2 separate regions of the Homo sapiens genome follow, and region 2 is linked to region 1. The links come from fine-mapping of genetic effects on gene expression. A gene starts in region 1. The other region holds a variant in brackets. All regions are shown on one strand. Distances are between the middles of the regions. Region 1 holds the start of DIRAS2 (DIRAS family GTPase 2). Region 2 overlaps LINC01508 (long intergenic non-protein coding RNA 1508).

Region 1 (2,916 bases):
TCCCCAGCCCACAAAGCCTCCTGCATTTCCAGAGATAGATAAAATTGTGGACAATTTTCAATTTCAGACAACAACCAAGAAGAAAAAAAAGTATGATTCCCCTACAAATTTGTTAAATTTATTCTAATTTTATCCTCCCCTTTTCTCTCCCTCCCCCTCCACCTCCTCAAATCCAAATGTCACTGGAAATGGAGCACATTGTGACTGATTTGAAATGTAAAATGCTCCAGACTTTTAGCGTTACCTGGAAAATCTTCCTCAAAAATAATATTTTTGAAAATTTTTAGTTTGAAGCAGAAAAGTTCTGATATGCTGGACTAGCTTCTCACATCTGAAGGGATCCATTTAAAAGATAACGAGGGCAAATATGTAAAATAAATTCCTAGGGAAGGCAAGCTGTGTCTCTGCACAGTAGGAAGAAACTGAATTCCACCACAATGTTGTATTCCAGCATTCAATGGATGTAACAGATGATTCACAGAGCTTCTAGTTTAAAAGTCTCCCAAACCCACATAGAATGTGAATTGGAGTTTTAAAGAGGAAAAACAGCATTTTTCAAGAGAGAAGGAGAGAGGCAGGTTCCCACAACGCCAGAAGCCAGCACTGCTTTTCAGGCGAGCCTGGGAGCTGTCAGCAGTCATTGTCATCTGATGGGAAACCACAGTCTTACAACTAAGGACTGGATGCAGCCCCTTGCCCATCTTCTGCTCTTACAACAAGGAAGCGGAAAGGAGCACATGTAGATATCATGAAACACATTCTTTAAGAAGACAAACAAAAGATTTAGACAGGTCTCGGCCAAGCGCATGAAGTGAAGGAGTCGAGGATGAAAGCATGCCGAACCAAACGGCAGTCCCTAGCGTGCTTGGCTTTTTTCTCACTTTAGACCACATCTTCTTACTCTTTTCCTAAATCCATTAAACTTCCACATTAACAGAAACACCTGCACAGTAGAATTTTCCAAAACGGTAAATCCTGTTTTGGAAGGAATCCCTAATAATACGTAAGATACAGATTTTTAAAAAAGAACATGTTTTAGACAAGGACAGCATGATGCTCACCCTCCCTAACAAGGATACAGAAATGCAGATTTCTTCCCCTCTTACCAACTCCAGTACACGCTGACTCGCCCTCCCTGAGAGCGGTAATCCCTTTCCAGGGGCTGGCAAACAATCATGCCAAAGCCGCCCGTGCCCCAATGCGGACGCAGCGAAGCCACGGCAGAAGGGGGAAATCGGTTACCTGGGGAAGAACACAACTCCGCTCAGAGCTTCTTCAGAGCTCCACTCGCGCAGGACAGGGCAGCGCAGGGTGTGTGGATGCGGCTCCTCCCGGAGGCAGGCGCAGCGCACTCCCTCCCGCCGCCGTGACGATGCTGTCAGCTGCTCGCCCGCCGTGCGCCCTGCACCGCCCACCGGCCGTGCTCCCTGCGCCCAGCGCCCTCGCGCTCCACCCGCTCGCAGCCCCTGCACCTGCGCTGGCCTGAGCCGCTCCGGCCTGGCACTGTCACCGCCGCTGCACGCTCCTCCTACTCTCTTCAATCTCTGCCTTCTCAGATGTGCCAACTGCTGCAGAGGCTGCTGCTCCTGCTTAAATGGCGCCTGTTCGCCTCCAAAGAGCTTTTAGGTGCCACCTACTGCATGCTCTTGGAATAGATGGCGAGGACTGGAATTTTCTGATAATTTAATGAATTAAAATAATTCCATTGAAAGGGAACCAGATTCTTTTGTTCGCATTGCGAACTATAATCGCTACTAACCATATAGACTTTTTTTTTCCATTTCCAGATTTTAACTTTTAAAAACCGACTCATTTAAAGGCAGACGAAATGCCCTGCCCCATACCATAGCCAACCACACAGTGTAGATTAATATATTCTAATTTAATAGGATCCTATGACAACACCGCCATTGGCAAGCTTGGATTAGAATTGCTTTTTCACTGAGTGGTTTCACATTAGCATTTCAAGCAAATGACCACGTTTATTTCCTGACATTGATAAACAATTTTGTCAAAGACGCGTTGATTAAAAAACAGGTGAATCAGCAAGAAAAAATATTAATGGCTAACAATTCTGTGCAGGCATTTTTAAAAGTGCTTGAGCATAACATTGATCCATGTTAAGTTTAAACTACAGACTGAAGGAAGATTTCTTCTCTTGGTTATATTACTCATTCTTTTGTAATACCAAATATGCTAAAAGACTTGAGCAAAATTAATATTCTGTAGTTCTTTACATTTGATTTTTGTTGTAGAATCCTATTTATCTGTTTTAATCCCGTCTTCACTTTCTAAATAATTAAAACATGTTAACCTTTGAAGTTCATTTCCATAGTAAAATTCTGCCCTGCTATTCACAGGAAATATGCTTTTTAAAAATCATACTTAAAAACTACGCATTTTACAACTTATAGTCAAGAAAACTTATTTTATTCCCCAGTTCATCCTAATTCTGGCCTTGATCCTACAGCCATTGGAATATAAAAATAAAAATACACTCTTTTTACTAAAGTCATTTAAGGCTACTTCAACAAACCTGCCCCTACACTAATGATGTCTAAAAGCAGAGTGGTCACCCTGTCCTCCACAGTCTCCTCTTCATTGCAAAGGAATATATGGCCACTCAGAAACCCATCCCAGAGGAGGCTCCAAATATGATGACAGTGGATTCTGAGCACTGCCTGATGCAGTTTCTGGGTCCTGAAACAACCTTCCAGTTTTATAAGTCAGGATGTTGTTTTCCATGACAACCAAAATGTAGGTTATCAGGTTAAATGACAAAATGGAATTTAAGAACTAAACAAAGGAGGGTAAAAAGATTAAATAAGCAAAAATCCAGTGCTAGTATGGAAGCAGGGAGAGCAAATCAGGAGCTGATAAAGAGAGCCAGTTCTATGCTGAATATCCCACAATGCA
Region 2 (2,916 bases), 300 kb before region 1:
AATCTCGGCTCACTGCAACCTCTGCCTCCCAGGTTCAAATGATCCTCCCACCTCAGCCTCCCCAGTAGTTGGGATTAAGGTGCCTGCCACCATGCCTGGCTAATTTTTGTATTTTTAGTAGAGATGAGGTTTTATCATGTTGGCCAGGCTGGTCTTGAACTCCTGGCCTCAGGTGGTTCACCCGCCTCAGCCTCCCAAAGTGCTGGGATCACAGCCATGAGCCACCGCACCTGGCCCAACTCATTTTCTAAACATCGGAAACCAGGCCAGCTGCAGCCTCCTTCCCAGGATGACAATGGGGTAGTAGTGTAGAGAGATGCCATTTTAATTCATTGACTTTCAATCAAGTCATTAGTATTTGCTTTCAGTCCAATTTCTCAACTCAGCCTTCCGTGAGCCTAAGCCAAACCCCTGACCATTTCAAAGGATCTACAGGCCTAATTAGCTTAAGTGTCATTACTAAGCTTCTCTGCAGACACTAGCTTTTGTCTTCACTGATCATTAAACTGGTCACCAACTCTGGCTCCATTCGCCTTCGAACATCTGCCCTTAACACTCCTTTGTTGCTGTCCAATGTACTGACCTTTCTGCCTCTTTGTTCTTAGCCTTTATCTCTGTCTCTTTTACTCTTCTCTGTCCTCCCTCCAACTCCAATCAATCCAACTCCTAAGCTCCATAATACATTTTTTAAAGAAAAACAGCAGTTGTTCAACAGACTCTTATTTTTCCCAGCTGATTCATTATTTTCCATTTATGTAAAATAAAATTCTAATTTTAAATTTTAATCCATGGACAAATTCTGCTGCATCCTTTTCACTTTCTCCCCATCATCATTCATCACCAGATCCATTTGGGGAAGGACTGGCCAAGTTCTATTTTCCTAGGACAGAGCAGCTCAAGAGGATATACGGTCACTTAATTCCATCAGAGCCTCATGAATGATGCTAGTTGTTTAAATGGGTGCTTGGCTGAGTCCATCTCCCAGGCAAAGCATAAGTCAGACAAGTGGAAAGGCCACAGGGTGTGCTGCTTCTATGCAAATGATCTTTGTTCCAACCCCACAAACACTTTTTGCTGTTGTTACCATGGGTTGCTTTGAAACAATTCTGCTTTCTTTTGTTTCACTGATTCATGCTGTATCCTGCCCAGAAAACTAGTTTTGACACCTCCTACATCTTCTGATTTCTCCCACAAACAAAAGAGTCAGACTGGAAAATAAAAAGAATGTATCTGGCTAGTGAACTGAGGAATTCAAAGAATGTTCTTTCCTTATATTCTTTCCCTACCCACTGTGGAGATATTACTGTCCTCACTCGGTTATTAAGAAATTCAATGGAAAAGTATGAGGTCAGTTATATTTCCTTCTTAGAGATGAC[T/C]GAGATTTTAGCTAAAAGGATCAAGGAATTTTTATTTTTATTTATTTAATCTTTCCAATTCAGTAACTTCATGGGGATACGACTTAGTGTTGATCATCCAGATCTATTGTTACTTTTAAATAACCCAGACTGTAGTGATTTTTTTTTAACTAAAGAAATCGTAGTTTATTTTTAAAACAAGGAATATATTTTCTGTTTCTTCATTCTGAAAACACTAGTTATATGGAACTGGCTTTTTTTTTTTTTTTTTTTTTTTTTTTTTTGCCAGACTCACATATCAATCAACTTCTCTGCAATATTTTCTCTCTTCGTTTTTTCCCACTTTCTAGTTCTTCCTCTGCAATTCACCTAAGTCTAGTCTCCCTGACCCTGACTGAGTCTTCAGGGCAATTCATTTCTGTAATGCTTTCAGTTTTATTTTACATTTCTTTCTCCCAGCTTGCATATTATCTTCAATTGCCCACATTTTCTTTTTTGATTTTAAATCTTTGTCATATTTTTTCACACAGTTCATGTTTACTTTAATTGCCTAAAGGGAAGGGATATTTATTTCAAAATCTCTGTTTCCTATTGTGATTCTTCAGAATCATATTCTACTTTTTTTTTTTTGTTTTTTTGAGATGGAGTCTCGCTGTCACCCAGGCTGGAGTATAGTGGCACGATCTCAGCTCACTGCAACCTCCGCCTCCTGGGTTCAAGTGATTCTCCTGCGTCAGCCTCCTGAGTAGCTGGGATTACAGGTGCCCGCCACCATGTGCAGCTAATTTTTGTATTTTCAGTAGAGATGGGGTTTGACCATGTTGGTCAGGCTGGTCTCAAACTCCTGACCTCATGATCTTCCCGCCTTGGCCTCCCAAAGTGCTAGGTTTACAGGCGAGAGCCACTGTGCCAGGCTTCTACTATTGTTTTTTACACCTTTCTTTCTTTCTTGTGTGTGTTTGTATGTGTTGTGTTTACACTGGTACATGTTTACACTGGTTTACACAAGGTCACTGTGTGCCTGCCTTTGCTTCTCTGACATTGGCCGTTTGTCTCTAAGGTAATCATGTGTGGTAGCGATGGGGAGGGAGACAAAATGAACAGAATCAGTGGCGACTTCGGTTGTGCTAGATTCATTTTTCTCCCCATGTGATGCGAGCACAGCCCAGGGCACTCACTCCGCCTCACAATTCCCATCCATGCTTGGCAGTGAGATGAGACTGACACGATCCATAGTCATACCCCTCCAGCCCAGGTCTCTGTTGGGTGACTGAGTACTTACTTTTTCTGCTTGTCTGATTCTAAATAGCAGCATGTACTTGTATCCATTTGATTTCTTCCCCTCTTCTTTTCACCACTGTTTAATCCACTTCTACAGGTAAGGAAGTCAGGTCACAGGAAGTTAAAATGTTGCTTATCTGCAGAATTTATAATTGTGACCCCATTTCCTCTGCCATTCTGTGGTATTTAGCTCAATACTTAGGGGGATGTTCTCAGGCCCCCCACTCATGTTGCTGTATCTCACTGTATTCAGGAAGGACTGCTGTTTGAGGCTTACCTG

What was found. PIP is the estimated chance that this variant, and not a neighbour inherited with it, causes the effect.
Region 2: its variant is the best candidate, but not a certain one, in a credible set for the expression of DIRAS2 in tibial nerve (GTEx, PIP 0.56).

What each region holds. Positions count from the first base shown.
Region 1 is chr9:90,641,510-90,644,425 of GRCh38, forward strand. DIRAS2 (DIRAS family GTPase 2) reads right to left here and starts at 1,315. Exons shown (of 2, transcript NM_017594.5): 1 at 1,243-1,315. RefSeq lists a silencer at 1,254-1,303.
Region 2 is chr9:90,343,064-90,345,979 of GRCh38, forward strand. The region is part of intron 2 of LINC01508 (long intergenic non-protein coding RNA 1508); the gene reads right to left. Among named protein-coding and RNA genes, the nearest start is that of LINC01508, 89 kb to the right of the region's middle. The variant T/C (reference allele first, on the strand shown) is at 1,377.